Linked DNA regions of Homo sapiens. The protein of the gene in region 1 interacts with the protein of each later gene in a pairwise test. Each region holds a gene or a part of one and is shown on either strand. Other genes may lie near its edges. The genes, in order: ZNF232, VBP1, ATXN10 and PPCDC.

Region 1 (7,212 bases):
GGGCCCGCCCGTCCCGCCGCGCCGCTAGCTGTCCCCTCTGCCTGGCCTCCGTGCCTTGCGCCCCTTTGTGCCGTCCAGCCCTACAGCTTTGAGGCCCTTTCGGCGCACGCACCCCGCCCCGATCCCCCGGCGCTATCCCAGCCTTGACGGCCGGGGAGGCTTTCCCTAGCCCGGCGCCTCGAGGACCGCCTCAGTGGCCAAAGGCGGCGCGGGGTGCGCCCGGGCTGTGTCCCCGGGAGGCTGGACCGCCAGTCCGCGCATGAGGCCATCTGTGAGGCACGAGTGCAGGAGAGTGAAGGAGACCGGGGCGTGCTGAGTAGGGACCTCCCTCAGTGACTGGAAGGTTATTCATGGGGCCTTCTGACACTCTAAAAACGAAATTTCTCCGGGGTTTGATGAGTATCAGGGTGGTGGCTTCTTGAGTTTTGAGCAGGCATCACAAATCAATCCCTCTGGAATACAGAACTGCCTCTGTTCCGTTTTGGGTTTTGTGTGTGTGTGTGTGTGTGTTTTTGGAGACGGAGTCTTGCTCTGTTGCCCAAGCCGGAGTGCAGTGGCGCCATCTCGGCTCACTGTAACCTCCGCCTCCCGGGTTAAAGCTGTTGTCCCGCCTCAGCCTCCCGAGTAGCTGGGATTACAGGCGCCCCCCACCACGCCAGGCTAATTTTGTATTTTTAGTAGAGAGAGGGTTTCACCATGTTGGCCAGGCTGGTCTTGAACTCCTGACCTCAGGTGATCCACTGGCCTCGGCCTCGCAAAGTGCTGGAATTACAGGCACGACCCACCACATCCGGCCCTCTGTTCCTTGTTTCGAAATAACTCAATTAAAAGTCAGAGGCTCACTGGCCACATCTCCTTCCACCCACCCACCGCCCCACCCCCCAAAAGATGCCTCTAGCAAATAAAATGAGACGTCCTGATGCCTTCCTGGCTCGTTCCAGAATTTTTAGCTTTGACTTTTGACGTGGGGTCCTTCTACCTAAAGTCCCCGCCGTCACATCAGCCCCCAGTTTTCCTCTGTCTTAGCTCGGGCTGCCGTAACAAAATACCATAGACTGGATGCCAGACAACAGAAATTTATTTTCTCAGTTTTGGAGGCTGCAAGGCTGTGACCAGGGCCCAACATGGTCAGGTTCTGGTGAGAGCTCCCTGGCTGCCTTCTCACAGGGTCCTCACATGGCAGAGAGAGAGGGACCCAAAGCCCTCTGGTGTCTTTTTTGTTTGTTTGTTATTTTTTGGGACGGAGTCTCACACTGCTGCCAGGCTGGAGTGCAGTGGCCCGATCTCGGCTCACTGCAACCTCCACCTCCCAGGTTCAAGTAATTCTCCAGCCCCAGCCTCCCAATTAGCTGGGATTACAGGCACCCACCACCACACCCGGCTAATTTTTGTATTTTTAGTAGAGAGGGGCTTTCACCATGCTGGCCAGGCTGGTCTCGAACTCCTGAGCCCAGCTGATCCACCCGCCTCGGTTTCCCAAAGTGCTGGGATTACAGGCGTGAGCCACTGCGCCTGGCCAGAACTCAGTCCTTACAGAACATCAGAGAATCCATACAAGGTGAGAGAGAGGCCTTATAAATGCATTGGGTGTGGGAAAGATTTGAAGGGGAGCTCACAACTTATTCAGCATCAAAGAATTCACAGTGGAAAGAAACTTTGTGAATGCAATGAATGTTCAAAGACTTGTAATCAGAGCTCACACTTTATTCGACATCATAGAATTCATAGTGGAGAAAAGCCCTATGAATGTGACAAGCATGGGAAAGCCTTCAGATGGAGCTCAGACCTTGTGAGGCATCTGGAAATTCATATTGGAGATAAAGTTTTGGAATGTAGCGAGCGTGGAAGAATTTTCAATCAGAGCTCAGGTCTAATGCAGCACCAAAGAAACCATACAGAATCATAACCCTAGGAAGACAGTAATGATAAAGATGTCAGTATGTACATATAGGAAGAGAGAAGGAGAGTTTGTTTTTGTCCTAACTATTTGGAAAATTGTAAGCTTCCTAAGAGCAATTTTCATCTGATTCAGTGTATAGTACTTAGTCTCAGGTCATGTGCAGATATGTCCTTCCCAAATGCTTACCACAAGATAAATCAGAAATCTTGACTGGAATAAGCTTCTAGTTCCTTTGCTTTATCATGAGAGGTTCCACACCACAGGAAAATCTTGTAAATGGTGGAAGCTGCATAAAGCACCATCATCATCACAAAATGGTGTCCTTGTGTGTCCTGTTTAGCAGCACCGAGAATCTAATAGCTTTCCCCTTGTCTGTTTTTCCTTACTATGAATTGTGCCAGGGGAACAGTAAAATGGGTATGATATCCTGAACTCTAGGGTGGATGTCTTTCTGGGACAGAATCTAATCCAAAAGTCTGCAAATGGACTTGAGGTTTTCACATTAGTATAAATGTCAATATGTAGTTTAGGGAATTTGCCTTATTCCTCCATTCCTAGCAAAATTAGATACAGAAGCAGCTAATTAAATCAGGAAAAGGAAACTGACAGTAAGTCATAGGACCCATTGTCTTCTCTCATGTAAAAGTAGAAGTTGTGATTCAATCTGTTCTGTAGGATTTAAAAGTATAATGGCACATTGAAGTTTGACATACTGAAATTCAGGCTCTGTCAATTTCATCTCTGTAACCTTTATTGTTTCTGAGTCTTGAGTTTTCTCATCTGTAAAATCAAGATAATGACATTAATACAATCCCTTGTGGAGCAACTGTGAAGACTAAATAAGACAATTTCATTAAGTTCCTGGCATAGTTCTAGACACGTAGTAGACATTCAACAAATGATAACTATTTTTATCCATAGCTCCTACGTGCAGTAATTATCAATGGCACTTTGAAGGAAAAAAGATAATATATCCCCCAGCCATGGGGGTGTCAATGCGCATTTTCAAGGATACTATATCTTGGAGAAACAAATTTAATAATCTGAGAATCTGAGAACTGTTACTATGGTACTACACAGTTGAACAACAATTTTTCTTGGAGAGACTAGGATTAAGCTATTTTATAAAAGTATTGAGAGACTGGATCAATCAATATCCTGCAAAATTGATAGTGAGATAAATTTATTTTTAATTAATTTTTTTTTTGAGACGGAGTCTCACTCTGTCGCCCAGGCTAGAGTGCAGTGGCACAATCTCAGCTTATTGCAACCTCTGCCTCCCGGGTTCAAACGATTCTCCTGCCTCCTGAGTAGTGGGGACTACAGGCGCCCGCCACCACGCCCAGCTAACCTTTTTGTATTTTTAATAGAGACAGGGTTTCACCATGTTGGCCACCATGTCTCAAAAAAAAAATAAAAAATAATCGGCCGGGCGCCTGTAAACCCAGCACTTTGGGAGGCCGAGACGGGCGGATCACGAGGTCAGGAGATCGAGACCATCCTGGCTAATATGGTGAAACGCCGTGTCTCCTACCAAAAAAAAAAAATTAGCCGGGCGTGGTGGCGGGCGCCTCTAGTCCCAGCTACTCAGGAGGCTGAGGCAGGAGAATGGCGTGAACCCGGGAGGCGGAGCTTGCAGTGAGCCAAGATCGCGCCACTGCACTCCAGCCTGGGCGACAGAGCAAGACTCCGTCTCAAATAAATAAATAAAATAAAAAATAACAACAACAAAAAAACACCAACCCCTATTTCCCCCATCGCAATAAAATTAACCTTAGAATTCTTTTTTCTCCTCCCCTCCCCCTACGCCCCAGGAATTGTACAGGCTAGTGGTTGGGGAATATTTTTTCGTGGAAGGGACCGTCTTCCTTAGCTGTGGCCCTCTCATCAGGTCTGGGAAGAGGTAATTGGAAAATAGAACTCATGGAGAAGTGTTACCACAGGCCATGGACAAGGCCAGAATTTCCCTGACATCTGTCCGCCAGCACCGCCCTTCAGGTACAATTCCACAAGAGACCCCCCAAACTTGATGAAGTCACCCGCTTACAAGGGCTCACTCTCCACCTGCGCAAGGACTGCAATTCCCAGGGGCCTCCAGGGCACCCGGCCGCTCCAGTCCAGTCGTGCAGGCGGCGCGCTCTTTCTCGCTCCGCTCAAGTCCAGGAACCGGTTCCCGGGCTCCCAGCCTCTCGGCAGCGCCCACGCGCCTGGGCCAAAGTCCGCGAACGGAAGCCGGCGGCGAGGAGGATTCTGGGAGTTGGAGGCCGAGGCTGCGACCTGCGCAGGCGCAAACCTGCCCCTGGGGTGAGGGCTGTAAGTGGCGCGATTCGCGGCAGCGCCCCGATGGAACCTCCTGGTCCTGTGAGGTGAGTGTTGGCGGCGGCTTCCCCGAGGTCCACCTGGCGGCTTGGCTTTTGCCCGTCCCGCAGGCAGCGGCGGCTCTGCAGTGAGCAGGCCTGGCAGGCAGCTCCGCGGTTGTGTGTGGAGAGGGGTTTGGGTTGCCCGTGGTGCCCGCGCTGCGCTACCTGCGTTGCGTCGCGTCACGTGCCGTGGAGGGGGGTCTTGATGTTCCTCTTCTCTTTTCTCGAGACCCTTGGGTAGGGAGTGAAGGGTGGGAAGGGGAGTTGTACCTGGCCTGGACGACAGCCCCCTCCCCGGGCGGGCACCTGCCCGAGGCCGGGGTAGAGAAGTTTTGCTGGGGCCAGCGGCGCCGGGCATCACCCTGGGAGACGCGAGCTCCGCGTTTTTCCTCGCGCCTCCTTTGTCTTAGGCCAGCGGTCCCCCTTTGTGCTCCTTTCGTGGCCTCTGATGCGTTCCACCTCCTTCCCTGTGTGAAAGGAAAATAAAATCTCAGGACCCCAAACTTACTATGACAAAGGGAAAAGTTAAGCTTGGAAACTGAGTCACGGAAAAAAACTGCTTTTCCTTTTGTTCCTAAACCGATAGCTGCAAGATAGAAAGCAACATATGCCCCCAGGTGGCCTCCCTCACCCTGGCAATGGAAACGAACAGCCGAGCTTCACCGGACAAGACTAGAAATCGTTCCTCCACCCACCCAGAGACAAAGCATATTTGACTTCTTCCTCTACTGTATGTCTACCTTATCTTGTGTAAAATGCAGATTTACTGAGCACGAGACAAATTCATAATTGACTTCCTCTTTTCACGTGCAACATGTGGATTCAGTGAGCTCTAATCAAATCCTCACAAGAATGTGGCCACTTACCTCACCACATACCCTCCCTCTTCTCTCCTCCTTCCCCTCCTGCCAGCTTTCTCCCCATTAAATTGAAGCCCTCAAAACCCTCTTTGGTAAAAGTGCGAGCCACGGATCCTACTGTGGCTTGTGTGTCTTTTTCCTGGGTGCATCCTCAACCTTAGCAAAATAACCCCTAAATTGGTTGAGACCTATCTCAGATGCTTTTTTGGTTTACACCTGTTAGATTTCCTTGACGCAGGCCACTGTACCCGAGACTTGTTCATAGCTGCCCCTTAATAGGGCTTTGGCATTTGAATGAGATCCAGCTCCTTAAAGGGGACTTATATTTTTCTTTTGCTGTAGCTACTACTTCAGAAATTTTTGAAAGCAGGGAGGAGCCATCTCAGAGGAGGCTGCCTCCCCAACACATTCCACCTTGCACTGAAAGCTGCTCGGCTCTGGGCTCTGCATCTGGAAACTTGGGTTTTGCTTCAAACTTATTTCTTCCAATAGTCATTTCTTCCCATAGGCCCCCAGAACTTTTTTTTTCTTGATACATTTTTCCTGTCAATGGCATTTAATTAGTTGTATTATAGAAAACCACTTTACATCCCCGTTTCTACCACGGTGCAAGTTTCTCAAAAACATTGACTTAGTGCAGCAGAATTCTGGGGAGGGGTGGAAGAAAAAGCGGGACTACAGGGCATAGGACAGGGTTTGGCTCTTTGGAGTGTTGAGTATATGTATATGTTTAATGAATGAAAAAAGAAGAGGAGGACGGGCGCGGTGGCTCATGCCTGTAATCCTACCACTTTGGGAGGCCGAGGTGGGTGGGTCACCTGAGGTCAGGAGTTCAAGACCAGCCTGGCCAATATGGCAAAACCCCGTCCCTACTAAAAATACAAAAAAATTAGCTGGATGTGGTGGCAGGCGCCTGTAATCCCAGCTACTTGGGAGGCTGAGGTAGGAGAATCGCTAGAACCCCGGGGGTGGAGGTTGCAGTGAGCTGAGATCATGTCACTGCACTCCAGCCTGGGTAACAGAGAAAGACTCTGTCTTAAAAAAAAAAAAGAGGAATGATTTCTTCTTATGTTACAGGGGGCCCTTGCAAGATTCCAGCTGGTATGAGCCTTCTGCAGAGCTAGTGCAGACTAGGATGGCTGTATCACTAACAGCAGCTGAAACTCTGGCCCTTCAGGGTACACAGGGACAAGAGAAGATGATGATGATGGGACCAAAGGAAGAGGAACAGTCTTGTGAGTATGAGACCAGGCTACCTGGGAACCACTCTACCAGTCAAGAGATCTTCCGCCAACGCTTCAGGCATCTCCGCTACCAGGAGACTCCTGGTCCCCGGGAGGCCTTGAGCCAACTACGAGTACTCTGCTGTGAGTGGCTGAGGCCAGAGAAACACACGAAGGAGCAGATCCTGGAGTTCCTGGTGCTGGAACAATTCTTGACCATCCTGCCTGAGGAGCTCCAATCCTGGGTGCGGGGACATCACCCTAAGAGTGGAGAGGAGGCTGTGACTGTGCTGGAGGATTTAGAGAAAGGACTTGAACCAGAGCCGCAGGTGGGAAGGGGGATTTGGTCTGTTATGGGAGCCAGATTGATGACCTTCAGGCTGGACCGAGGGGCAGCTGTAGGGGGAGGTGCCAAGTTCAAACCTCTCTTGGGCCAGGTAGAGCAGTTAGTATGTGTTTCTGTGTCTGTCTTTTCTGCCCTCGAGCCCTGAATGAGAAAGAGACTCTAGCTCCTCTTCTTCCCTTGTGCTGACTCTGAGGAGGCTCTCTAAAGTCTCCTTGGAAGCTTTGGTCCAAGGAGGGTCACATCTGCAAGTGTCCAGGCAGGGGACAGAAACCACACTAGTAATTTGAAGAAAATTTAAACTGAGTGGTGCCTGATCACCTCCAGGTCCCAGGCCCTGCACATGGACCTGCACAGGAAGAGCCATGGGAGAAGAAGGAATCTCTGGGAGCAGCCCAGGAAGCACTGAGCATCCAGCTCCAGCCTAAGGAGACCCAGCCTTTCCCAAAGAGTGGTGAGGAGCAGGATTCTGTGGGGAGGGAGAGGAGAAAGAGGGACTATAAAGGGCACAGTACCTAGTACCTGT
Region 2 (6,908 bases), on another chromosome or scaffold:
CTCAATTGTTTGCAGATCTGTATTCCTTCCACAGGGATTTTATGGTGTTTCTAGAAATATAAGTTGTTCTTGGAACATGCTAGTATATGTACAAGTAAACTTTACAAATACGTGAAAAGACCCATGTTAACTTTAAAAAGGTGTTATTGTCTGAATCTTTGTGTCACCCCAAAATTGTTATGTTAAAATCTTAACCCCCAAGGTGATGGTATTAGGAGGTGGGGCTTTTGGGAGGTGAGTAGGTCATAAGGGCAGAGCCCTCATGATGAGATTAGTGCCAAATTAAAGAGGCCCAAGGGAGCTCCTTGCCCCTTCTGCCACATGAGGGCACAGTGAAAAGGTGCCGTTTACGAACCAGGACACAGCCCTTACCAGACACCAAATCTGCCAGCACCTTGATCTTGGACTTCCCAGCCTCCAGAACTGGGAGAGATAAATTTCTGCTGTTTATAAGCCCCCCACTCTGTGGTATTCTGTTATAGCAGCCCAAACATAGTAAGACAAAGAGTAACATGAAAAAAGTGCTCTGCCATAGTTTTAGCATCACTGTTTTAATTTCATGAAATACAAGTACAAAACATTGTATAAGTATACTTTTTACTACATGGAGATGAACTAATACATTTATGTTTTTATCAGAATCTGTATCACCCAGCGCTGGTCAATGTACTAGTAGCTTTCCACAGGGATTTTTTATACTATTCCTATAAGGTTTTATCATGAATAAAAAAGCTCACAACTCTTTTCAGCCATTGCAGATTCACATTTATCTTAATATTCCTGTTCAAGATGCTCTGGAGAACTGTTAAGAACTACAAAATCACCTTAGGCAGAGTTTTGAATGAGTAATTTTATTTCACGTTGGCCAAGATCTCCCTTATGTTGGCATTGCAAAGACACTGCACTTATCTGAGGTTAGAAAAAATGTAGTCTTAATAGCCCTCTTAATGTGTAGCAAGGCAAATTACCATTTCCTAAAATGTCCAGAATATCATAGTAGTTAGTTATTCGTTAAGCAGTAAGTCATGAAACTCCACTTATAGAAGACAATAGCAACAGAGGACCACTAAGTCCTAAATATACCAAAGAAAAACAAGTTTACAAATATTCAAACTGTCTGTCTTCTCTACCTCTAAAATGGTTTAACCACATCAAGTGAGAGTAACATCAGCCAATTAGAAAGGGAAAAAGTAAACTGTGCTAGCGTCCGGCATTCAGCTTCCATAGCATGTCTCACAGTTTTCGGCCATTTCAGCTAAGAGTTTTCTTATGACAGGCAAAAATAATGATTAAAATACCATTAGCTTTGCTGAGAAATGTGGAAAAAAAAATCACAATGTCAAAAATATTTGAAACTAATTTTGTTTTTATAAATAAATAAAATGGTGTTTATCTTTTCTTAAAATTCTTGCTGTTAAAACATTCAAAGTTATGTCAACCTGTAAGGATAAAGGGGTATTTAAGATAACATGTTTGGAAAACTAAACCACATTTTTAATTGCCAGCATTATGCTTTGTTCTTGGTAGAGTCATCCTTGTTTCTTCTTTTTACATCCCAATTATAAACCCTGGCCATATCTGCAAGAATTGTCAAAGAAAATGCAAATGCAATTCTAAAGATAATGCATGCAATGACTAAGTATTCACTCCACTCACACAATGAATCAAAGACACAGAAATGAAACATATACAAATACTGGTAACAAATAGTATTGTAAGACATCCTGCTATAATGTCAATTGTTAGGAAAATACTATAATTAAACTCTATCAAAACTAAGGACTCAAATTAATTGTTAACCCATTGTTTACTATGGTATTAGTCAACTGTCAGCTAGTCAACTATGATATATTTAACAAATATGTACTAGACACTCTCGATAGTTTTAAAGACAGTCCCTCATCCAAGAAATCTGAAAGATCACTCAACCCATATCCTGCCATGTAATATTTATATTATTACAATTATCAATAATTTTATCTCTTACCCTCCCTTTGGCTTAACAAGTTTATTAAGCATCTACTGTATTTTTGACTAGGCACTGTACAAAGCCCTGACCTGAATAAGACAGGTGAAGTTCTTTTCCTCGTGGAGCTTAGACTCCAGTAGAATGTCAATGTAACAGAGACTGTCCACCCTAGCTCCCTCACTTGTCTGCACACCTTCCTTTCCTACCTTTTGCAGTACTAGCAATAACAAATGGCATTTAACTAAGCTTGTAGGACTCATCTTAGAGGATTTCCTCACTTTTGGCTCCTGTACCCATCTAAGTCACTGGATCCTGTTTTTTTCTCACACGTTTAATATCTTTTCCTTTCCACAAGCCACCCGTCCTAGGCCCTCGTCATCTCATAGCTGGATGAAGTTTCCACACTACCCGTCAGATGATGATGACCACTGCACTAGGCCCCAACAGGCCTGCCTTCCCTCAGCCAACCATAAACAACTGCCACATGCTGCACACTGGAAAAGAAGAGAAAGTGCAGCTCCTACATCTGAAGAGCTCACGGTTTGGCAAGGTAAAACTAAGCAGTATGTGTTAAGCAAGCACACAAGAAACACTCTGAGGATCAGAAAATGTTCAGGAAAGCTCTGATGCTTGGACTGAGATATTTAGGGTAAAAGGGTAAAAAAAGAGCACATCCTGTAAATATGGGAAAGTCATTCCAGTTAGGAGGAACAAAGTGTAGAAATGCAAAGGGTGTGGCACAATTGGGGAGTGTGTACAATAACTGACTGGGGTTATCTGGAACCTGGAATGCACTGGGGAAAGGCAAGAAGAGGTCAGTGGCATGAGGTGAGACAAGCTGGGGGCACTTCACAAGAGTGCCTATATGTATATCTTGTAAGTAACAAGGAACCGTTGAAATATTGTAACCAGAGGAATAAAAATGAGTGACCTAGTAAATTCATACTAGAGATAGTGGGAAGGACAGATGGAATGAGAGGAACCTAAAAAGGTTCTGAGTGCAGGTTTTGGAGCCCCAGAACGAGAACAGTAATGGGCAGAGAGATTTATGAGGGAAATTTGATGTGAATCTGGCGACTGATTTATTATTGGTAGTGAGGAAGAGAGAAGTGTGAAAGGTGACTCCCGTGATTTTGTCTTGAGTGACTGTGACAGGAAGTAGGAGGAAAAGACAGGCCAGAGAAGAAAGGCAAAGAGCTTGCCTTCCCCCTTGACCAGAATACCCCACTCCCACCTCTTCTCTCTGCTGATCTTTAAACCCTACGCCGCCTTTAAAAAAGCAGCCTAACTTTTATCTTCTCAACAAAGCCTTCTTTGAACTAAGTCCAGCCTACATCTATCTTTCCCAAAGTTTAAATTGCCTTGGTGTTGCATATGTTAACTTACTTATAGTTTGCTATGAATTATCATTCAGCTGTTTTACATGTACAGTTCTACCAGAGAAAGGCACTGCCACTCTTTTCTAAAATTGATTTTCATGCCCCATATGTCTTAGCACAGTTGCAGGAACATAGGAGACCCTTAAATGCTTGTGAAATTAAACTATTTAACCAGTTATAAAGTTGTCTTGGGAAAATATTTGGAAGAAAAATACTTACTCACCTATGTGAATTTGCTGTTTCCACATCACATTTCAAAATCACTAATCTATCTACAAACTTATTTAAGTACTAGTTCCGAATATCTTATTTATTATCTTATAAAATCTATAACCTTTATATTAGCCTAATAAGGAAATTCTTCCCACTAAAGCAATGTAAGAAAGAATGTGGGAGGTTTTTTGTATTCTAATTTTTTTTTAGTTCTAGGGTACATGTGCAGGATGTGCAGGTTTGTTACAAAGGTAAACGTGTGCCATGGTGGTTTGCTGCACCTATCAACCCATCACCTAGGTATTAAGCCCAGCATGCATCAGCTATTTTTCCTAATGCTCTCCCTCTGCCCATGAAAGAATGTTTTTTTAAAAAAATCTTTCTCCTTTTTTCCCTTGCTTTTTGTTTTAAGAAAGGATACTGACTTCTGTGGTAGTAAATTGATCTCGAAGAAAGTCAAGGTCTTCCTCCAGGGAATCAAGATTCTTTGTGGCAGTCGATAAATTCTTTTCCAACAATGCCTGAGCTTCATCAATATCATATTCAAGCATTACATTAGCCTGAAGAGAGAAAGTCATGACAATTACTCAATATTTACACAGAGCTTTATAGGTTAGAGTAAAGTGTGGGCAAACTACAGCCCTCAGGTCAAATCCAGCTTGCTGCCTTTTGTTGTAAGTTAAGTTTCACTGGAGCCCAGCTATTCTCTACTCAGGCTTTCATACCACAATGGCAAAACTGAGTGGTTGAGACAGAGACCATGTGATCTACAAAACCAAAAATATTTACCATTTGACCTTTTACAGAAAGTTTGCTGACCCCTTGGTTAAAGAATATATTTACATACATTGTATCATTTAATCCTCAACCCTGCTGAGGCCAAAGTTGTCTTCTTCACAGTTAAAGAAATGAAGGCTCAGGTTTCCTTAGCTGGCATAGCTAGTGGGTAAATGGGAGAATCAGGATAAGAAACCAGTATGTTTAGATACAAAATCCTATCTTTCTACTACCTCCATCGTGAAACTAAATAGTGTTGTTTGTATCAATTTAAATAAATTCTGAGCTTGAGATATGATATTAATTTAAAATTTTTCAAAGACATTTATTATCATCTATATTTGACCAGGTAAAAAAGACAGCTAGCTTTTACCTGTCCCTTCCTACTACTTCTGACAGATGTTAGGGATTAAGACAAGGTAATGTGTCTGTCATTCTGAAGATCTAGTGTTACTGCCAACATTCAGGGATGCATGTACCCTGGAATTGGGAAGCCACACCTTTTACAGCTTTGAACTCTCCCTATCACCTGACTTACCACTGGCATTTCCTAAACCACTTTCCTCATCTCACAAATGCAATTTTAAAATTACTCAAAGGATTGTTGTAAGGATTAAACAAGACAACATGAAAGTATTTGGCACAAAGTAAATGCCAAATAAATACTTATTGACCAAATAATCCAATCCATAATTAGAAAACTGTATTAAAATTCAGATAGGACAAAAATATTCAACATAAGCAAAGACTGAACATAAATATAACAAGAATCCACAAAGAAAAAAAAACCAAAGCAGGGGACCAAAAAAATTTCTAAATCCTTCATTTCAACAAAATGTTCCTGAAATGTGACACATGCACATACTACACACACACACACACACACACACACACATACACACACACACACTGGGTGAAATGACACGCAAAATGAAATGAAAGGGTACTTTGTATACCTGGGGGAAACTGACCCAAAAGTCCTTTGAGCATCCAGGCAAAAAGAACACATCACTCATAGAAGAAAGAAATCAGTTTGCCCTCACACTTTTTGACAGTGATGCTTTACAACAAAAGAAAATGGGGCACTGTATAAGATGCTCAAGGAAATAAAATGTGAGTTTAAGATATTATATCCAGCAAAACTGAATTTCAAGTACAAAGGCCACAGACAAGTTGTCAGCAACATGAGATAACTCAGGGAATATCATTCCCATAAATCTTAAGGCAATCTACTTATCAGACGAATGAGTAACATACAATCAAAATGACTGGATGATGACTGGGGGGACATCAACATAAAGACTATGATGTGCATTCAATATTTACACGAAGAACTAGGATAAATGAAAGATGAGAGAGAGAAAGAGAGAGAGCAAACAGTATATAATGGCTCTGTGCTCCAACAATGTGGGAACAACCTTATAAAGAATGTGTAAGGACAGGAAGAACATATGCAAAAATGTCAGTGGTAACAGTGTTGGGTGGTGTTATTCTAAGAATGCTTTGCGTGTGAATAGTAATGTTGTCTAGCTTAATTCTATCACCCTTGGTATTTCTGAAAACCAGGATTCTTGATATAGAAGAAACAGGGGGGCCAGGCGCGGTGGCTCACACCTGTAATCCCAGCACTTGGCAGGCTGAGATGAGTGGATCACTTGAGGTCAGGAGTTCAAGGCCAGCCTAGCCAACATGGCGAAACCCCGTCTCTACTAAAAATACAAAAATTAGCTGGGCGTGGTGGCACGTGCCTGTAATCCCAGCTACTCAGGAGGCTGAAGGAGGAGAATCACTTGAACCCAGGAGGCGGAAGTTGCAGTGACCCAAGATCACGTCACTGCGCTCCAGCCCGGGCGACAGAACAAGACTCTGTCTCAAAAAAAAAAAAAAAAAAAAAAAAAAAAACAGAGGAACAACTAAAGTGAAAACTCTGTTGTCCTGAATTTGAATTGGAGGTAACAGTATGAAACCATGAGGTACACACATATTAACCTGAACCTTTGCACACAAGTTTATGCAGGTTAGCTATATCCTACTGGTTCTATTTCTCCGGTTGAACCCTGACAACAGATTCGTTCACTTACACTTTGCTTTATGCAGTTTTCTGATTTTTTTGTTTATATTTAATATTATATACATATAGAAAAGTATTCATATCATAAATATATAGCTTGATGTATTTTCACAAACTTAACACACTCATGGAACCAGCATCCAGATCAAGGACAGGTTATCACCAACACCCCAAAGCTTCCTTGTGAACATTTTCAGTTACCACCAGCACCCCCACCGCAAAGGTAACCATTAACCTGACTTACAGCATAGTTTTGCCTGTATTACAACTTTACATAAACAGAATGACACAGTATATGTGCTCTTTTGTGACTGACTTCTATAGTAGGCAAGAATTATGGCTCCCATAACAGCTGTCTCATTCTAATCTCTGGAATCTGTGACTCTGATGAGATATTTACATCATTTGTCAGAGCTGACCTTAATATACAGACTGCCTAGGTAGGCCTAATCTAGTTATATGAGCCCTTAAGAGCAGAGAACTTTTTCTGGCTGGCAGC
Region 3 (7,026 bases), on another chromosome or scaffold:
GTAGCTGGGATTACAGGCACCCACCACCAAGCGTGGCTAATTTTTATATTTTTTTTTACTAGAGACGGGATTTCACCATATTGACCAGGCTGATCTTGAGCTCTTGACCTCAAGTGATCTTCTGGCCTCGGCCTCCCAATGTGAAGAATGTTATCTTTATGGACTAACTTTATAATCTCTGCCACATTTTGTCAAATGATGGGTACTTTAAAAATGGGGTTCAAAATCTATACAAAAGTTACATTTAAAATTTTTGTATAGACTACTTAATGCTATGCAGTTGGTACTGGGTAGTTTCTTGGTCATGCAGTGTATTTGATAAATTATTTAGTAGCTATGTGAAGTAGCATTTTCAAACAGTACTGTCTTTCTAATCTACCAAGATATTGCATAGAAGTTCATATTTACCCAGAAATTATGCAAGTTCTTAAAGCCAGAGTTTTTTCAACCACAGCATTTTACAGGATTTCTGTGGACAAGAAATTAATGTATTTTATGGGATATTTGTATCTTTAAAGTGGAATTTGCATGCTGGGAATGCTTTAAAAAGAAAGTATTTGCATAAATGTCATGTACATAGCTAGTAATTTTGAACATTTATTCCACTGTTGGAATGTCTTTTTGCTTGAATAAGAACTTTTCTGACTCTTTGCTCCAAGAAGACACATAATGACACATAATCTTGCATTCTTGATGGCAGATGTCTGCTGTTAGTGAAAATGATGAGTCGTGTACATATTTCATACTTCTGTTTTGTTCTTCATAGTTTTGTTTTTCTCTTTGACTTATTACAAGCACAGACTCTTTAAATTTATTGAAATATTTTATTCTCTTACAGTTATTTATAACAGTTAAATAATTTCTCTTAAAATATGCTAAAAAGTTATGTTTTCTTTTCTTTCTAGGAGGCACTGGCTACAATTAGGCTTCTCGACGTCCTGTGCGAAATGACTGTGAATACTGAGCTGCTCGGCTATCTGCAGGTTTTCCCTGGCTTGCTGGAAAGAGTGATTGGTGAGTGAAATATCACACATTGTATTTTTAGCTAAGAAATCTTTGGCTTGTCATACTGTAATATAAATCCAAATACAAATCCTTAATTTTCAGTGTACTTTGGGAATTTTGTGAATATATTTTTTTGAGAGGAATCACAGTGTTGTAACAGTTCAGGCAGGCCAGATAAACCTGAGCCCATGTGTTTGTTCAGCCACTTCCCTTCTGTTAACTGAAGATTCCTTCTCAGTAATGTGAGGATAACAATGCCTGTTATGCATATAGTAGATGTTTCATCAATATAGGATGTGATGAAGAAGGTGGGGCAGGCAGGTTTGCGATGATGATTGTGGTTTTATATTACTATAGCTTTGTAAAATGTGGCAGTAAATTTTTCCCATTTACATTTAGTGAACACATAGAATGGTGTTTTATACATATTATATATACAAATCTTATGAGAAAAAGGTTTTAAACAAGAAACCATTGTTAAAAGTATTACCAACCTTGCTAAAAAGCTGTTTGCAAAATAATTCAAGTAGAACCTGTTCCTTGTGGCTAGCCATGCTTAGGTTTGCTGTTCATTATTTGCAATTTTTTCCTTTAAAAAGATGATACTTACTCTGGAGACCAGTGTCCTGAGAAAGATGACTTTGTGTCTAGCAGTATAGATGAGCTAGCAGTCAGCTGTAGAGGAAGATCCTTAGAATTCCTCATCAGTGTTGTATTTTGAGTACATTGCTTTTAGTGATAATTTAAATAAAACACCACAAACCTAGCACACTTGAGTGATTATGGAAGGAGCCTGAGTTTGGAGCCAGGGTCGATGTGGGTTGCCATCCCAGCTCTGCCAGGTGCCAACTTTTCTGAGCCTGTTGTTTTCTTCATTATAAAATTGGGAAAGTGATACCTTCCTGTATAGGTTTGTTGAGAGGGTTAAATGAGATAATGTGGAAACACTGAAATGCAGTTCCTGGAAGATTGTCTGTTTTCATTGGCTGCCTGGAGGTGCTCATAGAGTAGAGCAGTGGTAAGTTCTTTCTCCTGAATGTAGCTGGAGTGAAGTATAGAGAACATATGCTGGCTTCTGATGATTTGGCCAGTTGGATGAGGGAAAAATAAGCACTCTTCTTGGTTTCTGTCATATGCATCATTATGGATAGATATTGTGTTTTAGACTTCATTGACTGAAGTTATTAGAAAAGTTCTTTCATAAAGAAGTTGAGATTGGAAACCTTTTTGTAAGAAGGATGCTAGCAAACTTTTAGCTAACTTTTTTTGTAGATAAATAGAAACTCTGAGTTGGGGTAGTCATTATGGCTTATCTCCCCAAAACTAGAGTCAAAAAATTTAAAGCAAAGGCAGAAGAGCCTTCTAATCATTTTTTGAAGCAAAGGCAGAAGAGCCTTGTAATCATTATTTAAATAAAGCTTTCTGTGCTCTACCTTTAGCCTATTACAATAAATTAGATTTGTCTATGGAAAACTATTAGTACAACATACTAAAAGTTACTTTTCTGTGGAAAATGAAGTTTACTCTTTTGGTTATAGATCTTTTGCGGGTGATTCATGTAGCTGGAAAAGAAACCACAAACATCTTCAGTAATTGTGGTTGCGTGAGAGCAGAAGGTGACATCTCCAATGTGGCCAATGGGTTTAAGTCTCATCTCATTCGTCTGATTGGAAATCTGTGTTACAAGAATAAAGATAACCAAGACAAGGTAAGAGGATTTCTTAGTATGTATTATACATGTATGGCTTCATTTAGAATATAGTCCTTGGAAGACATTCACTCTTTTGGAGTGAAAGCTTGAGGTGCTTAGAAAGTAGCTTGGATAGAGAGATATATATTTTATATGAATACACACACACACACACACACACACACACACACACACACACATATATATACACACACACACGTGTGTGTGTGTGTGTATATATATATATGTATATGTTAATATATAGGCTCTTTGGAGCCTAGACAAATTTCTAACACACAGTAGATATTTAATAAACACTAGTTATTATTGCCTATTATCTTAAAAAACAAAGCTTAGATCTATATCCTATGTTTATGGACGATAGCATCATAAGCCTTTTCTTCTAGATGTTTTAAAATGGATATAAAAGGAATATAATATTTAAGTATGAAGTCTTTGAGGACCTAGTAGGCTGCTTTTAGAAACCTCTTATGTGCAGAAGAGCTTAAAGGTAGTTATATTGAGAATGTGAGAGAATGGTAAGAAAGATCTCAGGGCAGTTGGACCACATGCTTCAGATTGATCTCGCCTTTCTGTATTTTTCTGGAGTTTTACTTCGGGTGGCATTTGATTTGCTTAGTTAAATATTAATTAAATTTCTGCCAGATTATATTTTTCTAAGATGGTGGCAGAATGTCTTGCATTGTACATGTGTGTCTGCAGTATGACTTTGCCACTCCCCTGTCGAGGGTTGGCATCTATTTCTCCATCCACTTGAATCTGGGCAGGCCCTGTGGCTGCTGTGAGCAATCAAATATGTGATCCTATACCATTTGTAGCATAGCCCTTAACTGGTCTAGCTGATTCTATTTCTGGCTTCTTAGAAGCCCGTCACTATGTAAGAAGTATAGATTCCCAGAGATCACCTTGCTGCGAGTTGCTGAATACACATGGAAAAGCCCTGGAAGATAAGATACAATGAGGAGAGAGGAAAGGTCTGGTGAAGGAACATCAAGGCATGAGATGTGTGCGAGAAACCATCTTGGGAGTAGATCCATCCTCAGTTTCTTACTTGCCCAGCTGATGCCACATAGATCAGGGCCCCCCTACTGGGCATAGTCCTTCCTGAATTTATGACCCATAGTATTATGAGAAAAAGTAAAAAATAGAAAAAAAAAATAAGGGATATAGGTCCTGCTTCAGTTAGTAGCCCAGTCAGTTACTGTTGGACTGATCCTTCTTCAAATAGCAATTATAAACTTTGGACAAAAAATAGCCATGTGAAGACACTCGAATTTGACACAAACGGGCAGATTCTGGAGTGAAATTGATGCTTGGAAGAAGGGAATGACACAGTGTGTGGCATGCAGGGCAGTGAAAAGTCAGTTACAAAATCTTCCGTCTTTCTAGCTTGAAGAATCAAAGAACAGTTTGAGGGCAACCATGGCATTGGAAAGTGAGGGGGGAATTGTGGAAAGTAGAAAACAGACCCCAAACTCTGGGTGTCAGCTACCTAAATCTCTGCTAATGGCTGAATCACACGTGTGGGGCAGGCTCCAGGCAGCTAAGCTAAGGATGAAGTCATTGTATTGAGATTTGAGCTCCCACCCTAGAGTTTATAGTATTAAGTCCAACTTACACTGTAGATAATTAATAATTGCCCTCTAAAAAAAAAAATCAACACTCTTTAGAGGAATATAATATAATCCAGAATTGCCACAGCATAATGTATCCTGTAATGTCCAGGATACAGTTTACAATTGCTTGACGTTCAGGAAAATGTGACCTGTTCTCAATTGAAAAGATGATCAGCGGAGACTGACTGTGAGAGGACACAGATACTGGGCTTAGCAGACAAGGATTTTAAAGTACCAAATGTAACCGTGCTCAAGGATGTAAAGGAGATACGCTTCATAAGAGTGAAAAGGTGGGATATCTCAGCAGAGAAATAGAAACTATAAAAAAGAACCAAATGGAAATCCTAGAACTGAAAAATACAGTATCTAAAATAAAAAAAAAAAAATACCGAATGTGCTTAACCTCAAGAAAGATCACAGAGGAAAGAGCCAGTACACTTTAAGATACATCAGTAGAAATCATCTAGTCTGAAAAACAAAAGCGGGGAGAAAGATTGAAAATAAAACGGCCGCTTTAGGATGCTAAATGTTAGGGTAATTTGTTATGTAGCCGTTGATAGCTGGAATAATTCCTGTGAGACATGGCGCAGAACCAAACGCTAGACAACTTGCACTTTTAGTATATGGGCGCACCATTTTGGCAATCCTCATCTTCAGGAGAGTGAGACTACTGATTCCCCCCTTGGGAAATTACTGGACTGATTTTTGCAAAAGAAAGTTGATAGCGAATAAAGCACTTTACCTTTTTAATGACCAGGACTGCCTTTCTTGAGCACAAAAGAGGTGGTTTTTCTTGTGTTTAACTATTCTTTTGTTGCTAATTTGGACTGGCCTCTTATAGGAACAAAATGCAGTAACCCTTAAAAGGCTTGCGAAATAACTCACTGAAGTCAGGATCAGATTGCACCATAAGTAAATATGGAGTGTGCCCAAGTGCTGCTGTGCAGAGGTCACTGGGGCGCACAGGAAGTCGATGGTGTGTCCTGTCACTTGTGCAGTTGCTAATAGCACTGCTGATTTCTCAGCAAACAGTTTAGAGGGTATGAAGGAGTTCATTCTTTGAGTATCAACTCAAATGCCCTCTGTTTCTCTCAGTTTCTTACGTGTGTCAACAAAAGGCCTGAACCTGAAAGCATTACCTCTGGGATTTTTTTCCTCCTTCCAAAGACCGACACAACGCCGAAATCTTGTTCTGGATGTGCTAGAGTGTTCTTTATTCTTGTAGCCAAATCCTTGTTCCAGCTGGGTGTTACAGATATTTGCCTTGCTCATTGTTGCCTCAAGGGATGGAATTCACTCGCACTCAGATGACTTTGGTTATAGTTTTGGGAAAATGGAATGGATGGTTATGTAGCAGGTCTTTATCACGGGACCAGTAATTCTCAGTGTTTTGTCTTGATGGATTGTCTCACTTCTAACCCAGCTAGGGCTTTAAGGGAAATTTGGCTCTGTCTCTGCTCCAAGACTAAAGATCTGAGTTGGGAGGGATTTCGTATCATCTAGCCTAATTTGGGTTCCTCCTTTGCCCAGAAGACAAAAGGGACTGATGATTTATTGTTTAGTGTTTACTATGTCCTTGCATTGTGCTTAGTGAATTACATATATTATCAACTTTAATCTTTGCATCAGCCTTGCAAAGCAGGTTCTGGTAACCACATTTTAAGGAGAGGCCATCCAGTTAGGTGCAGAGCCCAGGGTAGAATTTGGATTTGTTTGCCTATTGAGTTCCCAGGCCTGTGCTCACTTCCTGCCCCATGGTGAGAACTTGCCAAAAGGTTGGAGAAAAGGGTTTAAAATAGACTTCCTGCAGGACTTCAGGCTGGAGGCTGGTCAGTCTGCGTCTCCTAGGCCAGCCAGGCCCCTTAGACTCCCTCCTGGTTGAAGTTGGGAGCTCTTGGGGGTCCTCTTATCCTTGTTTCTGATTCACCCATTCATCAAATACGAATGTTTGCTGGCTTGGGGATCCTTTGACGGGTAATTCAGGCAAGGTATTAATATCTTCTGTGGAGCTTCCATTCTGGCATCATCTGGGGACCATGCTTGCCTCTTTGAATCAGAATCTCAAAACTACTCATGACACAGATTTTCCTAAAATCTTTGTGTACTGCCTGATTCCTCTGAATTTTGAGCAAGACTCTTTCAAGCCCAACTGTGTCTGTGTTGTCTGTGTAACTTCATCCATTGCAGTGAGTATGGTGCCCACCTGCTGGATGGCCCTCTTACACTTGTGTGGCACTTTCCATTTTCCAGAGCTCTTTTCATCTGCTTTAGTTTGTTGGAGCCTTATGATACCTCTGTGGAAAGGGCTGAAAAGATATTTCCACCATCATTTTCTAAATGAAGAAACCAAGGCCCCGAGACCAAGTGTGATTTAACTCAGCTAGCACTTGCTGAGTGAGAATTGCCGTGTGCTGCATGCTCTGGAGAAGACAGTCGCTTTAGTGGTGGAATGACACATGTCCACTAGGAGCTGTAGCAAAAGTCCGTGTGGTGAGGCCTGTCAGAAAGGAACAGGGGGGTGATGTGTCCTCTGGGCTGGCTGTGCCAGGAGCATTTCTCTCTAAGGACAGGCACTGGACTGCCAGGAGCATGGTATCAACTGGAAGGATGGTCATCTTTCTTTGAGATACTTGTCTTTGGGCAAGATTTAAGAGAATCAAGGTACGTTGCCTCAGATTGAAAATCTGCACAGAA
Region 4 (7,026 bases), on another chromosome or scaffold:
AAAAAAAGCACAAACTTATCAAGAATGTTCCCCAATATTCCCACCAAAAGCCCCACTGACTTAAAACAAACAAACAAACAAAAAAACACACACACACAAATATACACATAGGTTACAAATTAAAACTGAACAGAATGATACAAAAATGAAAAATGCAAGTTTCCCTTCCTCCACTGGTCCCCCTTCACAAGGGTAACCACCTCCAGAGGAAAAAACTGTGTGCAGTAACTCAGTATAAGAACACACAGAAGGAATCAGGCTGCATACCAGGGGTCGGCAAACCTTCTCTATAAAGGGCCAGATGATATTTTAGGCTTTGTCGTAATGATTTAACTCTGTAGTAGCACGAATGCAGCCATAGGCAATACGTAAATGAATGGGTATGGCTGTGTTCCAATAAATTGTCTTGGACATGAAATCTGAATTTCATATCACTTTTTTTCCGAGTCATAAAATACTATTTTTCTTTTGACTTAATCATTTAAAAATGTAAAAATCAGGCCAGGCACAGTGGCACATGCTTGTAATCCCAGCACTTTGGGAGGTGGAGGCAGACAGATCACTTGAGCCCAGGAGTTTGAGACCAGCCTGGGCAACATAGCAAAATCCTGTATCTACAAAAAGAATGCAAAAAAATTAGCAGAGTGTGATGGCACGCCTGCAGTCCCAACTATTTGGGAGGCTGAGGTGGGAGGACTGCTTGAGCCTGGGAGGTCAAGGCTACAGTGAGCAGTGATCACACCACTGCACTCCAGCCTGAGCAACAGAACAAGACCCTGTCTCAAAAATAAATAATAAAAATTAAAATGTAAAAATCATTCTTAGCTGTAGGCTATACAAAAACAGGCAGAGCCGAATTTGGCCTTGGGGGGGGGGGTCCAGTTTGCTAGCTCCTACACCCTGCTTATTCCGCTTCCATCTTGATGATTGCTCCCTTCAGCACAGAGAGAGCCACCCCATTTTTCTGAATCATTGCCAAGTAATCCACTGAGAGATTGTCCCATAAATCATAAGGGCACCACAGCTCTCTACTGCTGGATATTTTGTTTGCTTCCAGTTTTGCTTTGAAATTATAAATAATGCTATAATGGACATCCTTTCACTTTGTAAATACACCCCACAGAGTTTAATCCTGTGGGTAAATCAAGGACTATGAAGATGTTTTAATTTCTCTCAATATTGTCAAGTGGTCCTCCAGAAAGTCAGAATTTACTCCACACTGCATATGAGCAGAGCCTTCTTTTCCTCACCCTCGACAGACCTGGATGTCCTGACAGACACCCTAGAAATGTATCCTTCTCTGAGCCCGAGGCCTGCTGACTCCTTGAGTTGGGGGTTTTCTCTATCTTTAGAAATCCCCTTTTGGCTCTGAATTCTGCTGACACCTGCCCTGGCAAAAGCTAGGGCGATGTCTGTCTTCTCCTCCCAAGTTTGAAGGGTGTGGATGAAGGAGTTCAGGAAATGCCACCCCATAATATGCGGCTTTGGTATGCTGATTATTTCAAACCTGAAGGCACTGGGGGAAAAACAAATGCAGGGAGGAACTTTCTCTGAACTTCTCTTATCTGCCTAAAGAGGGATTCCCCTTGTCCTGAGTCCCCCTCCCTGAGAAAGGAAGACTGACTTATTGACAATCTGCTGAGGCATCTTTTATTATCTGAGAGGTTTTTATCTGCCTAACAAGACCGTATAATTCCTCCCCTCACCCTCCCATAACTTGTGTCGCCACCACCCCCAGAAGCCCCAAGCCCCTATTTCCTTCTGTAGCTCAGGCTGCTATACAGGCTTCAGCCATCTCACCCTTCTGGGAATCTCATATTTTGTGGTACACCCATGTGCAGATATGTAACTAAATATGGTTTTCTCCTGTTGATCTTGTTTTTTGTTGTTATTGTTTTGAGATGGAGTCTTGCTCTGTTACCCAGACTGGAGTGCAGTGGCATGATCTCAGCTCACTGCAACCTCTGCCTTCTGGGTTCAAGCGATTCTCCTGCCTCCGCCTCCTGAGTAACTGGGATTATAGGCGCCCACCACAACCGGGTAATTTTTGTATTTTTAGTAGAGCTGGGGTTTTACCATGTTGGCTAGGGTGGTCTCGAACTGGCCTCAAGTGATCCGCCCGCCTCAGCCTCCCAAAGTGAGCCACCGCGCCCGGCCCTGTTAATTTTGTTTATAAGTCAGTTGAACTCATAGCCCAGCCAAGCAGCCTAGCAAGATGGAGGAAAGCCATTTTTGCTCCCCTGCATGGGCCAGGCTGCCAACCCCAGGGAAGAAACTGCCTGAGCTGACAACCCGGATTTTACTGCCACTCAATTACATGACAACTACGGAACTACAAAACCCCCGGCATCCTGAAGCTCCTGAGCCCCAGGACCTTCTCTCAGGCTGCCTTTGGGTCCTAGTCCTTTTTGCCCTCACATCTAGAATCTTCTAACACCAGTGCCAGAAGAGGCCCTGGAGATGGATCATTTGAGAACCTGCCCCTCCTTCACTGTGTGGATAAGAAAATTATGGCCAAAAAGAACGGACTTGCCCAGGGTCCCAGCGTCAGAAATGTGCTCAGCTGCCTCTCTTGTGACACGGTTGCCCACCTGCCCCAACATACTCAAGGTCATCTCTGCTAGTGACTACTCTCCCTGACTGCTGGTGTGTGTGGCTTGTGGCTAATCCATGTCTCTCCACCACCCCTCACAGTCTCCCTGATTTGGCTACCTTGACATTAGCGGCTTTCCCGGGATGTCTGGACATACTGGTCAATCAGGAACAGTGATGGGCCAGATCTGTAGAATCCCCCAGCTCCCTGCAGCCCACACCCCAGCTGTTCATGTGCTAGACAAAATCTGGATGTACCTAAGGAAGTTCCGGAAAGCCTTGAGCACCTGAACCCACGACTCAGCAGGTGAAGAGCTGAAAGTGACTGCTCCAAGGGACAATGATGCTCCTGCAGGAGATCCAGCAGGAGGCAATGTGGAGATCAGGGCCATCAGGGAGTGAAGGGGAGTGTGCAGGGATAGACGCCACCACTGGGGCCAACACAAGGCAATCCAGGGATTACCTTTGGATCCCAACACCTCACGAGGGCCCTAATAAGCAAGGCCAGGCTTGGAGAGCTGTCTCCCTGCAGATGAAAGGCATGGGCCCTCCACAAGAGCAGGTGAACTGTGGCTTCCATGGCTCTTCCCAGTGGGGTTGCCCCACACCATGTGGCTGGCCCAAAGGACATGAACAAGGGGAAAGGACAGGGTGATGGCCAGGAAACACACACAACCGAGTGCTTCAACATGCCAGGCTCTGTGCTGAGTCACTGGCACAGGACCATTTTCATCTGTGACCCCTCCCACCCCAGCCAACATCTCAGGGAGCCTGACAAGAGTCTGGGGGATGGGCAGCAGGAATCAGCCCTATTTTCAAATGGGAAAGGCAAGCTCCAAGAGGCTGAGTCGGGGAGCCCTCCCTCCCAGTTCAGTGCCCTCTGGCTGCCTCACTTTTGGCATCAACTCCAACCAGAGAGGGGAAGCCAAGTCCTGTTCCAGACATGGCCTGCCATCCCATGGGGCCCAGGCTAAAAGGCCCTGGGGTGGGCTGGAGCACCTCCCTGCTCCAGGCAACCCTTTCCTCACAACCCCCCTCCCACCAAACGCTGGCTGCGTGGGATGGGAGGAAGCGGTAGGGTTGCCATTTCCCTCCGCTCTGAGGCTGCCCATCTGTTTCCTGGGATAGGACTCCCCGCCCCTATCCACCCCTAGTCCGGAAACTCACTTGCCCTGGGGCTATGGGAAAAGGGAACTGCATGGCTCCCTCCCTCCCCAGGGGGTGGTGGCAGAGGCCTCCCACCCTCACGGCTCTAGCTGGGCAGCTCCTACCAATGCTTCTGGGTACACAGCGGGTGGCTGGGCCTAAGCAGCACTGCCCTAAAAGTGCAGCACCCAGTGTCAGAGTGCCACGAGACTCTCCTCCCTCCCCCACTCTGGCCTGGCTGTCATCCCTGGCTGGCAGCTTCATGGCTTATCCCAGCCCTGGGGGTGGGGTGATGGGGTGACTTTCTGGGTGGAAGTTGGTGGAAAGTAAAAAAGTGAAACACTTCCCAGCCCAGCCCCAGCTGATGTGACCACGTGGTCATCTGTGAGTAAGCACCGCCCCCTGCTGGACATGCCAGATACGGCCACTGCACCTTGGGTGCTCAGCTGATAACAAGAGGGAAAAGCCAGGCCTGGGGCCCAGCAACTTCACAAGACCCCACCAAAAACTAGGGGCCAGTAACACCAGCAGTGTCTAAGGCAACCTATAGTTCTATGTCAAATAAGTTTAAAAGAAGGGGCCAAAACCACAGGGGCTGGGCTGGGGCAGACAGGGAAGGCTTTGCACAGAATGTGAAAAGGCGAGAGAGGAGCAGAGAGGGCAGCCAGCCTAGCAGGGCCCAGCCACGCAAAGACCAAGGGGGATAAGACAGACCAACTAAGGGCCCTGGAGGTGGAACTAGGAAGTGGGGCCACTCCCTGTTAGATTTCACGCTGTTTAAAGCCTTGAACTTCTGCACCAGAACCCCAATATAGAAAATAGATCCAAGTTGAGGGTCTGGCCAAGGACGGGGGCTAGAGTCCCTCACCCCAGCACACAGTCGGGGGCCCCTGGGGCAGCTCTGAACACCTGAAGGAGCAAAGTTTGAACCTAGAGCTTCAGACAATGGGGTTTCAGAGCATTTGACTGACAAGACAACCATGAGGTCTCACGAGGAGGGAGAACACAGCCGCAGTGTTCAAGGCGGAATGAAAGCAGGGATGGGGAAGCCCAAGGCAGGAGGGGATACTGAGAACTTGCTGCACTTCTCCAGCCAGCCCTCCTCCCACACAGGACTTCACGGATTCTCAGGGTTAATGTATGGGAGCCCAAACCCTCCGTTCACTGGGTCCTTTCCCAGTCTCCCCTCATGCCCTGTCTGTACTATCTAATCTAGCCCCTGGTTACACTGGGCACTGGTCTCTGTCTCCTGAATCCTCCACAGAGCACCACACACACAGGACCTCCACAAGCATGATTAACATGATAAAGAAAAAGAAAATTGCATGTACTGCAGAGCAATGGGCCATCCCCGGGAGCACCGGCCTCCCATGCCGGAGGCTGCCATGCTTATCTGGTGAGGATACTCACCCCAGGAATGTCCAAAAGCTTTGACACCAGAAGAGGCAACTTCAGGGCTGCGACACTCCCCGTGACACCCACAAGAACATGGAATTTTCTCTCCATCAAGGGTGCAGCAGCTGGACAGGAGGCCTTTGGTTCCATGTGGGGTCTGGTGGCTTCAAGTTCTGGGAGCCTGCCAGGCCTGGGCTCTATAAAGCTGTCGGGATTTAGGATCTAAAAGGAGAACAAGGGCCACCCCCTTCATTCATACAGTCGACCAGAATGTATGGAGCACCACGTATTAGGCCCCAGGCCAGAGGCTGAGGCAGCGGAAGGGATCAGCAGTCCTGGCTTCAGGGAGCACACAGTTTGATAAGAAAGTGAGACACCTTCCCCACACATGGGCCAGTCACAAGGGAATGATGCAGTGCTGTGGGGAAGGGCTGTACCAGGTGCGTGGCTGCTCAGGGTGACCATCTCTAGAAGTCAGAGATTGCATCCCAGAAAAAATGACATTGGGGTTGAGTCCTGAAGGATGAGTTAGTTTTTCAGAGACAGGAAGAAATCACTTCAAAGGAAGGAACAATCTTGCCAAGGTGAAGGTCCTGAGGAGGGTGGCAGGTTGGGGAACAGGGAGTGGCTTACTAGTGAGGCCGGACTGTGATGGGGGGTGGTAGAGGGGCAGAAAGTGAGACTGAAAGTCAGGGTGAGGCCAGAATGCCGTGGGCAGCGAGGGCCAGGGTGAGGAGTTTTGGTTTTAGAAAGACGGTGCTGGCACCTGGTGACAGTGTCAAAGGGACCCTGTTAGTGGAGAGACTGGAGGGCGAGAGGAGCTGCTGCGGTGGACTGGGCTGACTGGTGAAAGGAAGCGGCAGGAAGGGATGGGTTCCAAAGATGCTCATGAGGTGGAACCCTGGGCAACAGGGAGGTTTGGGTGCTCCAGGGAGCCAAGAGATTTGCCTCTCTGTCCCTGTCCCTGTTAATCAAGATGGGCACCACCGTACAAATCAAAGCCCAGGAAGAAACCAGCATAAAGGGGATGCAGGCCACCCCAGGAGATTAGCTGGTTTGCTTCTTCCTCTGGCTCTCAGACGTTGCTAGAAGTGTGCACTCATGATAATATGGCTGATGGACACCAAAACCTACACGTGGCGGGTTGGGCCAGCAGAACGTGCTTCATCAGCAACCATCACTGAGGACCGATTACAAAGAACACCATGCAAAGGAATTGTGGAAAACACAGTAGCTGCCTCTGGGGAATCTGTAGGTTGAGTTTGAGAAGACAGGAATGACACCTGTCTGAAATTATTTGAGATCAGTCCTTCCCTGGGATGCACCTTTTTGGTGATCACAGACTCAATTAACACATCAGTTTCCTTGCCTCTCCCTCCACCAGCAAGCTCCCTGAATGTGTGACCGGGTCTAATTGCCAACCAGCAGTCCACTAGCCGGCAGTCCTGAACAGGTGCTGAATGAATAACTATACCCTCCAAGGCAGTGTGAGCAGAAGACAGATACCTAGCCTGTGAAGCAGAAGCCCTGGGCCCTGACCATGGTGTGCTCCTGACCTGGAGTGACCCTGGTCCAGGGTCATTCCCTCCCTGGACCTGTCCCTTCATCTGAAAAATGCAGAGGTAGGACCAGATGATCTCTGAAGCTCCTTCCAGCAGAAACTTTGAGTCAATACATGAAAGAGAGCAGTAAGGGGCTCTCCTTCCAAGACAGAAGGTCCTAGAAGATGCACTCAAAAAAGAATCAGCATGGCAAGGGAAACCCAGGCAGCTGCCCAGGAAGCAGCGCTGGTGAGTTGTCCAATGGCTACCTCCATGGCTGAGCATCCACAGGGGCCTATCTCCTCTTCACTCACAGGCCCCTTGGCTCTCTAGCCTCTCTGCCCAGGATTTG

Evidence for each region.
Region 2: the proteins of ZNF232 (region 1) and VBP1 interact in binary tests that used the Homo sapiens proteins (3 or more experiments, as listed by UniProt).
Region 3: the proteins of ZNF232 (region 1) and ATXN10 interact in binary tests that used the Homo sapiens proteins (3 or more experiments, as listed by UniProt).
Region 4: the proteins of ZNF232 (region 1) and PPCDC interact in binary tests that used the Homo sapiens proteins (3 or more experiments, as listed by UniProt).

The regions. Positions count from the first base shown.
Region 1 is NC_000017.11:5,108,854-5,116,065, reverse strand, and holds the start of ZNF232 (zinc finger protein 232), read left to right. Parts: upstream 1-4,187; 5' UTR 4,188-4,243; coding exon 4,244-4,266; intron 4,267-4,846; exon of another isoform or gene 4,847-4,990; intron 4,991-6,197; coding exon 6,198-6,672; intron 6,673-7,013; coding exon 7,014-7,140; intron 7,141-7,212.
Region 2 is NC_000023.11:155,233,442-155,240,349, reverse strand, and holds the end of VBP1 (prefoldin subunit 3), read right to left. Parts: intron 4,122-6,908; coding exon 3,983-4,121; intron 1,579-3,982; coding exon 1,508-1,578; 3' UTR 509-1,507; downstream 1-508. UniProt on the Homo sapiens protein: Binds specifically to cytosolic chaperonin (c-CPN) and transfers target proteins to it. Binds to nascent polypeptide chain and promotes folding in an environment in which there are many competing pathways for nonnative proteins.
Region 3 is NC_000022.11:45,737,826-45,744,851, forward strand, and holds part of ATXN10 (ataxin-10), read left to right. Parts: intron 1-905; coding exon 906-1,014; intron 1,015-2,543; coding exon 2,544-2,713; intron 2,714-7,026. UniProt on the Homo sapiens protein: May play a role in the regulation of cytokinesis. May play a role in signaling by stimulating protein glycosylation. Induces neuritogenesis by activating the Ras-MAP kinase pathway and is necessary for the survival of cerebellar neurons.
Region 4 is NC_000015.10:75,026,576-75,033,601, reverse strand, and holds part of PPCDC (phosphopantothenoylcysteine decarboxylase), read right to left. Parts: intron 5,356-7,026; 5' UTR 5,284-5,355; coding exon 5,149-5,283; intron 1-5,148. UniProt on the Homo sapiens protein: Catalyzes the decarboxylation of the cysteine moiety of 4-phosphopantothenoylcysteine to form 4'-phosphopantotheine and this reaction forms part of the biosynthesis of coenzyme A.